Regions from separate parts of the Homo sapiens genome. Here region 1 is linked to region 2. Evidence: fine-mapped expression QTL. A gene starts in region 2. The other region holds a variant in brackets. All regions are shown on one strand. Distances are from middle to middle.

Region 1 (4,403 bases), 130 kb after region 2:
AATTGTTTGGCAGTTTGGAGACAAGAGTTAAAAGGCAAGTCTTGGCCTTTACAACTCAAGCATCCATTAAGCTGCCCCTCACCTTCTGTTTAAATCAATGGGCCACAGGTAAAATGGATCCCTCTCAGACTTATGAATAGAGGTAGTGTGATTTTAGGTGTCAACTTGACTGGATTATGCAAAACCTAGAGAGCTGGCAAAGCATTATTTCTGAGTGTGCCTGTGAGGATGTTTCTAGAGGAGATTGGCATGTGAGCTGGTAGACTGAGTGGGAAAGATCTGCTCTCAGTGTGGACAGGCATCCAATCATCTGGGGGCCCAGTTAGAACAAACAGGCAGAGGAATGGTGAGTTCCTTCTTTCTCTCTCCTGGAGCTAGAACATCCTTCTTCTCTTGCCCTTGGACATCAGAACTCCAGGCTCTCTGGCCTTTTGCCTGTAGAACTTGCACCAAGGGCCTCCCCATGTTCTCAGGCCTTCAGCCTCAGACTGAGGGTTACATCATCAGCTTCCCTGGTTCTGAGGCTTTCAGACTTAGACTGAGCCATGCTGCAGGCATGCCGGACTCTCCAGCTTGCAAATGGCTTATCATAGGTGATATGATTTGGCTGTGTCCCCACCCAAATCTCATCTTGAACTGTAACTCCCACAATTCTCACCTGTCATGGGAAGAACCTGGTGGGAGGTGATTGAATTATGGGGGCGGGTGGTTCCTGAGCTGTTCTCATAATAGTGAGTGAATCTCACAAGATCTGATGATTTTAAAAATAGAAGTTTCTCTGCACAAGCTCTCTCTTTGCCTGCTGCCATACACATAAGATGGGACTTGCCCCTCCTTGCCTTCCACCATGATTGTGAGGCCTTTCCAGCCACATGGAACTCGGAGTCCAATTAAGCCTCTTTCTTTTGTAAATTTTCAAGTCTCGGGTATGTCTTTATCAGCAGTGTAAAAGCAGATGAATACAGTAGGGCTTCTCAGCCTCCATAATTGCATGAGCCAATTCCCCTAGTAAGCCTCTTATCTATCTATTATCCATCTATCTATCTATCTATCTATCTATCTATCTATCTATCTATCTACCTATCTATATCGATCCATATCCCATTGACACTGTCTCTCTGGAGAGCCCTGACTAATAGAGAGAGTAAAAATAGGAAAGGCTTGGTGGAGGGCCAGCCCCATGGGATTTGTATCTGTTGAGAAGTCAGGAAGGAGCTCGAGTTGATTCAGATAAGCTCATGGGTATGATGGACATTTTCTTTCCCACAACCTCCTGAAAATATGGAGAGTCCTGTCCTAGTTTTGGGGAATGACTTTGTGAGGAAAAACAACAAAAGGGGCTGGGATAGCCACACAGAATAGTCAGATTTAATGGTTAATGGCTCATGAGTGAGTGCTGATGACAGGATGAGGAGGTGGGCTAGAAGATCAACTGAGGCAGTTCTCAACTTGGTGGGGCAAGAAATGAAATACAGTGAAAATCAGGTGATCCACAAGCGGTGACTTTTCTCCCCTGGGTTCCCCAGCACTAGAAACAGGCTGGGAAGGGAGACTAGGGGGTTCCTGGCCAGGGGCTTTACTCCTGTCCACACAGTCCCTGCACATGGGATTCATTCCCTCATCGCAGGAGCCACCAGCCCCCCATCTTTATCATATTCTCTGTATCATCTCTTTACCCTTCTCCCTCTCCAAGCCCAAAACTTTAACCCAGGGGATGAGAACCAATCATTCTTCATGATGTACTTTTCCAAATCCTTCAGTTTTCCTCATATTTGAAAAGCTAAAAATCTGACCCTTTTGTTCTGTGGGTTCACTGTAACCGTCCCCTCGTCCCCCACACCCCAGATGATGGCACCTGTCATCAGACAGCCTGTTGGAGACTCATGGGACAACAAGAGACAATAGATAGAAATTATCCAACAGTTTGGGTAAATAAGTATGCTTCGTAATTAAGCAGCAAACCAATATACTGAGATGTGAATATAAAATAAATAGGAAAAACTAACAAAATAAAGATGTAGGCCCGGTGCG[G/A]TGGCTCCCGCCTACTGTAATCCCAGCACTTTGGGAGGCTGAGGTGGGCAGATCACAAAGTCAGGAGATCGAGACCATCCTGACCAACATGGTGAAACCCCGTCTCTACTAAAAAAATACAAAAAAATAGCCAGGTGTGATGGCACGTGCCTGTAGTCCCAGCTACTTGGGCGGCTGAGGCAGAGGAAACACTTGAACCTGGGAGGCAGAGGTTGCAGTGAGTCGAGATCGCGCCACTGCACTCCAGCCTGGCAACAGAGCAAGACTCAGTCTCAAAAAAAAAAAAAAAAAAAAAAAGTAGAACAGAGGTCGGCAAGCTTTTTTTATAAATTACCAGATAATAAATAGCTTGGGCTCTTCAGGTGATGAAGCAAAATCCAAAATACATACATACATAACAAGAAAGAACACATTTTAATTAGATTTTTATTAACAAAATTCAAAGTATAATAACAACTGATAAGTATAAATTTTTGTAATACAGGTCTACTAATGAGAAAAACGGGATTCTTTGTTTTGGGGATAACCTTTCACTTGACTTGGGACTCAAAGTTTGTGTTCCTTATGATCAGATCAATTGCAAATGTTCATCAATAAGGACTATTTTTAGCTTATTTGCTGTGCAAAACAAGCAGCAGGCCAGACTTGGCCCACAGGTCGATAGGCTGTAGTTTACCAATCCCTGGTTTAAAATGATAATGGTACGGAAAAAATTGTGTTTCAATGGAAAATCATTTATTGTCTAGATAACCCATGCAATTATCTGATTCTCAACTTTTATTATTTTTGAGATATTTGATAACTCTGTAACTTACAGGTAAGAGATAGACATGCAAATTCTGTCTAGTCTGGTAGAGGTTTGACTTCTCTCACTCCCTCTGTGAAGAAAAAAAAAAAAAAACAGTTTTGTTTCAACATTTCTTACTCCATGTAAATTTGTGCTGCTTGGCCTTCTTTATTTGAACTGGTAATTATCTCTGCCTGATCCTTCATGAATCAAATCTCTAGTATGTGTTCATTTCTACATCTGTATGACAGTCAAGATTATTTTTCCAAAAGTATCTTTTAGCATTGGTAAGAAGGTATGACCATGTATTCAAAGATAGAACCATTTAAGCCAAGTGTGCTAGTGTTCTATGCAGCCATAACAAATCACCACAAACTTAGTGGCTTAACACAGCAGAAGACCAACATGAGTCTCATGGGGCTGGAATCAAGGTGTCTGCACAGCTGAGGCCTTCTGGAAGCTCCAGGAGAGCCAATATTCCTTGGCTTGGGGCCTCATCACTCCAGTCTCTGCTTTCATCATCACAGTGTTTTCACCTCTCACTCTGACTCCTCCTGCCTGCCTTTTACAATGACTGTTGTGATTACATAGAGCTCACCCAAATAACCTAGGATAATCTCCCCATTTCAAGAATCTTAACTAAATCACATCTACACAGTACTTTCTGCCATGTAAGGTAACATTCACAGGTTCTAGGGCCATGGACATATTTGGGAGCCCATTTTTAAGGCTAGCATATTAAGAAAAAGCAGGAACTAGAAAATTAAAAGGCTGAGAAAATACAAAAAAATTTTGTAGGGCTCTTCATCTAAGGCTTTTTTTAAGTTGTAAATAAAGGAATTATCAAACAAATTATAATATATATCTATAACTGAAATATTAAGACAGTTATAACAAACGGTTTGTATTGCATATTGACAATACATTTCATGGCAGAGAAAAATTTTTAAGATACTGTAAATAACAAAAGCAATATAAACAGTGTCACTCCACTTGTGTACATTGAAAAAAGAATATTATACATTAGAATTTGTGGCTAAATGGATTCAAGGCGTACCACAAACTGCTATGATGTGTGGTTATCTCTGGAGGGGAATGTGGGATCAAGCAGGGGCATGAAGGGGAACTTTCACTTTGTATTTATGTACTTGGGAATTATTTTGAATGTTTATAATATTGTATTTTACATTGCATATAATTGTTTTTTAATCACAGTAATGAAAATGTTAAGGACAAACCAGAAGGGGCAAAAATCCCTTCCCTTCCTCTTACAACAGTCCTTTTCTGGCCCCTCTAAGAAGCTAAGTGCATTAGTGAGCAAAGAAATGATCGTATCATGCTGGGACGAAATGGAAGAGGAAGGACAAGCACAGGTGAGTGGTCTCTCACCAGAGGTGAGCACATGTTTGCTCAGCTATTGGGCTACAAAAAAAACTGCTGTAATCCACAGGTAGGAGGCCCCTTGTTAAGTCCCATTCCTCTGAACTTTTTTCTTCTGCAGGCAAACTCTGAACTGAGCAGGCACCCTGGATGCTGTCAGAACATTCTACGGTGTCCATGTGGATCATTTCTTTCTTTGATATCC
Region 2 (4,403 bases):
GAGGCCCCTTATTAAATATAAAGGTGACTTGAGGCCGGACGCAGTGGCTCATGCCTGTAATCCCAGCACTTTGGGAGGCCGAGGCAGGTAGATCACGAGGTCAGGAGATCGAGATCATCCTGGCCAACATGGTGAAACCCCGTCTCTACTAAAATACAAAAAATTAGCTGGGTGTGGTGGCACACACTGGGGAGGCTGAGGCAGGGGAATCACTTGAACCCGGGAAGCGGATGTTGCAGTGAGCTGAGAGCACACCACTGCGCTCCAGCCTGGGCGACAGAGTGAGACTCCATCTCAAAAAAAAAAAAAAAAGTGATTTGAACAGAAGCACTACAGTACAGCGACAGTTGATCTGATCACTGAGACAGCTACTGTGTGACTCACAGGTGGTGGAATAAGCCATGTGGAGATGGCAGACAAAGGGGGGATTCACATCCTGGGCAGGATGGAGTCGGACGATGCAAGACTTCATCATGCTTCTCGGAAGGGCACTGAGTTTAAAACTTATGAATTGTGTGTTTCTGGAATTTTCCATTTAATATTTCTGGACCATGGTTGACCGCAGGTAGCTGAAATAGCGCAAAGTGAAACGAGAGACACTACTGTATAGAAAAGACCCAACAGCGAAATGTAACGTGAGATACTAGGCTAAATCGCAGACCAGAAAAAGGGAACCATATTTGTGGGGAGATCAGTGAAATACAAATAAAGTCCATGGATTCATTAACACTATTGTAACCACATCAATATCCTGATGCTAGTGATTATACAATGGTTATGTCATTTGTCAGCATTAGAGAAGGCAGGTGAAGCATGTTTGGGAACTCTGTACTATTTTTGTGACTTTCCTCTAAGTATAAATTTATCCCCCACTCCAAAAAAAAAAGGTCATACGGAATTCTAAAAATTGTGTCATGGAATAAAGCAAAAGTAGGTTTATTTTCAATTAAATAACAAAGGACTGTCTTTTATCATTACATGCAATGAAAATTAAATGTACAGGTGATGGGCTCCAGGGCAAGGAGGACAGAATCTCTCTCTCTCTCTCTCTCACACACACACACACACACACACACACACACACTTCTGCTAAGAAACACAAAGCAATAAAACAGCCAACAGGTTGTTGACCTAAGCACTGAGTAAGCCTAAGCACAGGGACGGTATAACTAATATACTTTGGGTCCAGAAGAGACAGAATGACTTACATATAGAAATGGCTGGTATTATTTATCTTGATCTAAAGCAAATGAATTATGCTATAAATAAACACCAAAAAATGCTGGCCAGGCACAGTGGCTCACGCCTGTAATCCCAGCACGTTGGAAGGCTGAGATAGGTGGATCACCTGAGGTTAGGAGTTCGAGACCAGCCTGGCCAACATGGTGAAACCCCGTCGCTACTAAAAATGCAAAAATTATCCAGGTGTGGTGGCACGCTCCTGTAATCCCAGCTACTTGGGAGACTGAAGCAGGAGAATCCCTTGAACATGGGAGGCGGAGGTTGCAGTGAGCCGAGAATGGGCCACTGCATTCCAGCCTAGACAACAGAGCAAGACTCCATCTTAAAAAAAATACAAGAAAGATAGAAACACATAAAACTGCAACTTTTTAAAAACGCTTTACATCCATGAGCATTTACTCTATTATGTTTCCATTACATTTTGCCCCTTGAGAAAATTAGAACAGCAAATGCCCTCCACACAGAACATTTCCCACCACTACAGCCACCTTCTTCAAGCATGAGGAGAAAGTGTTGCTCTATAAAACCCAATTCTCTATGAATGGCTGTCATACGAAACTGAGAAAATGGAGTGAGACAGATTCCAAAAAGATTAATGACAAGCACAATCAGCATTAATTATTGTGAGTTAAGTTTCATTTCCTGGAAATAATCACAGTGATGGAATATTTCCATTGAATTAGTTACTGCCATTGGGATTGACTTGGCTGAGTGAATTCCAAATTATATTTCTCTATACTTTTAATATGGAACAGAAAAATGAAAGAATTTTACAGTGTACATGACTTAGATTTCACCATTAACATTTTTAGCTTATCAATTATCTAACCATTTACTCTACTGTCTATACATCCATCCATCTTATTTCTGATGCATTTCAAAGTTAACTCTATACATCCATATACTTTCCCCTAAACATTCTAGGATGCATCTCATTATCTAGTAAATTCCAACATAACCCCCCTACTTTATGGGTCTATTGACTGCAATGCAGTTAGCAGCTATTGAATTTTATCCTCACCTCTGCTTCCGACCTTGAATGTAAAGGCAGCCTGATCCACAAAGACGGTCATATCGGAAGTCCTGAAATCTCAGTACTGGTCCCCAACTGCTGTGCCAGACAGACCCTTCACTTCTAGTCATTTAGAATCACTATGATGCAAGAACCCACTCACCTACATACTCTAAGGTGGGTGGAGAGAACAGGAGACTGGTTATTTTTTCATAGGCATGGACAGTGCCTGTACATCTATATATAGGACATGATTAATATGAAATTAATTCAATATTGACAGGACATTGTGGTGAGGTAAGAACATTTAATCTGTAAGAGTCTGTTCAAATTTGTATATGTATATGACTATTTCTTAGGAGAGTTTCGTAGCTTACATATTTTCAAATACATCAGTGACTAAAGATATTGAGAGCCACTGGTCTAACACTTCCCTCCTTCAGACAGTGGGCATTAGTAATTCCAGATTGCGTTATCTCTTTTGCCTGCCACATCCCACCATTGACTTATATTTAGCGTACTTCAACCAAAGCCCCAATTTATTTTCCCCACACTATACTTTTACTGTAGATCTTTTTTGTTTACTTGTCTATCCTGGTGATTAGTGAGTAACTTTGTCCATTAAGCCAACTTGGATGCATCATTAACCAGAAAAAAGAGAAAACAGGTAGTGAAAAGTCAATAGTTTGTGATATTTACGACACCCCTCAGAGTGTGAACAAAAGAAATATGGTTCTGGCATTGTGACTCCAGTCTTAACCCTATGAGTCATTATTTGGAAAACTAGTGAGTTACATCTTCCAGTTACCTTTCTGTGCAGAAAAATCCCTCAGGAAGTAATAAATACAGGAAAGCATCTTGGATTCATCCAGCCCCCTACTGTGTCGGCTGTTATGATCCTGAATTGTAGACCATTTCTTCCACACTGCCTGGATCTCCCATAGAATCCAGCACAATACTGTGTCCAGAGCAGGGGCTCAGTAAGCTCTTATTTTACTGGAATATCCAACCAAGGGCCAGTTTGGAATTTACCTATATTACAGAAATATTAACCTTCTTGAAGACCAACATTTTGGGAACAGCAAGACCCTAAAAACTTCTAATTAAAATAAAGTTGCCCAATTAAAGTGACCTTTGGCTGAAAGGTAATGAAACCATATTTTCTAATTTCATTGTTCCAAACCAGCCTCTCCTACTTTCAGAAGGAACATCACTTTTAGGCAGGGGGGTTCTTCCTTTCAACTTTTATTTTAAGTTCAGGGGTACAAATGCAGGTTTGTTACATAGGTAAGCTTGTGTCATGGGGGTTTGTTGTAAAGATTATTTCATCACCCAGGTATCAAGCCTAGTACCCAGTAGTTACTTTTCCTGATCTTGTCCCTCCTCTCACCCTTCACCCTCTGAAAGGCCCCAATGTCTGTTGTTCCCGTCTTTGTGTCTATGTGTTCTCATCAGTTAGCTCCCACTTATGAGAACATGCGGTATTTGGTTTTCTGTTCTGTGTTAATTTCCTAAGGATAATGGCTACCAGCTCCACCCATGTACCCACAAAGGACACGATCTCATTCATTTCTTACGGCTGCATAATATTCCATGGTCCACATTTTCTTTATCTGGTCTGTCATTGGCAGGCATTTAGATAGATTCCATGTCTTTGCTATTGTGAATAGTTTGGCAATGAACATACGCATGCATGTGTCTTTATAACAGAATGATTTATATTCCTCTGGGTATATATCCAGTAATGGGATTGCTGGGTTAATGGTATTTCTGTCTTCTTTAGGTTTTTTAGGAATCGCCACACTGTCTTCCACAATGGCTGAACTAATAAGCATCCTTTTCTCACCACAACCTCACCAGCATCTGTTATTTTTTGACTTTGTAATAATAGCCATCTGACTAGTGTTAGATGCTATCTCATTGTGGTTTTAATTTGCATTTCTCTAATGATCAGTGATGTTCGGCTTTTTTCATATGATTGTTGGCTGCATGCATATCTTCTTTTGTAAAGTGTCTATTTTTTTGCTCACTTCCTTATGGGGTTGTGGTTTTTTTCTTGTAAATTTTTTTTAAGTTTCTCATAGATGATGGATATTAGACCTTTGCTGAACGCATAGTTTGCAAAAATTGTCTGCCATTCTGTCTGTTT

Direction of the effects. Positions count from the first base shown, and alleles are read on the strand shown. Sizes are in standard deviations (SD) of each study's normalised expression.
With allele G in place of A in region 1, the expression in subcutaneous fat of the gene that starts at base 2,412 in region 2 is lower (moderate effect, 0.42 SD a copy in GTEx).

What was found. PIP is the estimated chance that this variant, and not a neighbour inherited with it, causes the effect. A credible set is the group of variants that fine-mapping cannot tell apart.
Region 1: its variant is the best candidate, but not a certain one, in a credible set for the expression of LINC02296 in subcutaneous fat (GTEx, PIP 0.63).

The regions. Positions count from the first base shown.
Region 1 is chr14:87,738,640-87,743,042 of GRCh38, forward strand. No RefSeq gene overlaps it. Among named protein-coding and RNA genes, the nearest start is that of LINC02330, 86 kb to the left of the region's middle. The variant G/A (reference allele first, on the strand shown) is at 2,032.
Region 2 is chr14:87,611,052-87,615,454 of GRCh38, forward strand. LINC02296 (long intergenic non-protein coding RNA 2296) reads right to left here and starts at 2,412. Exons shown (of 16, transcript XR_007064294.1): 1 at 2,264-2,412.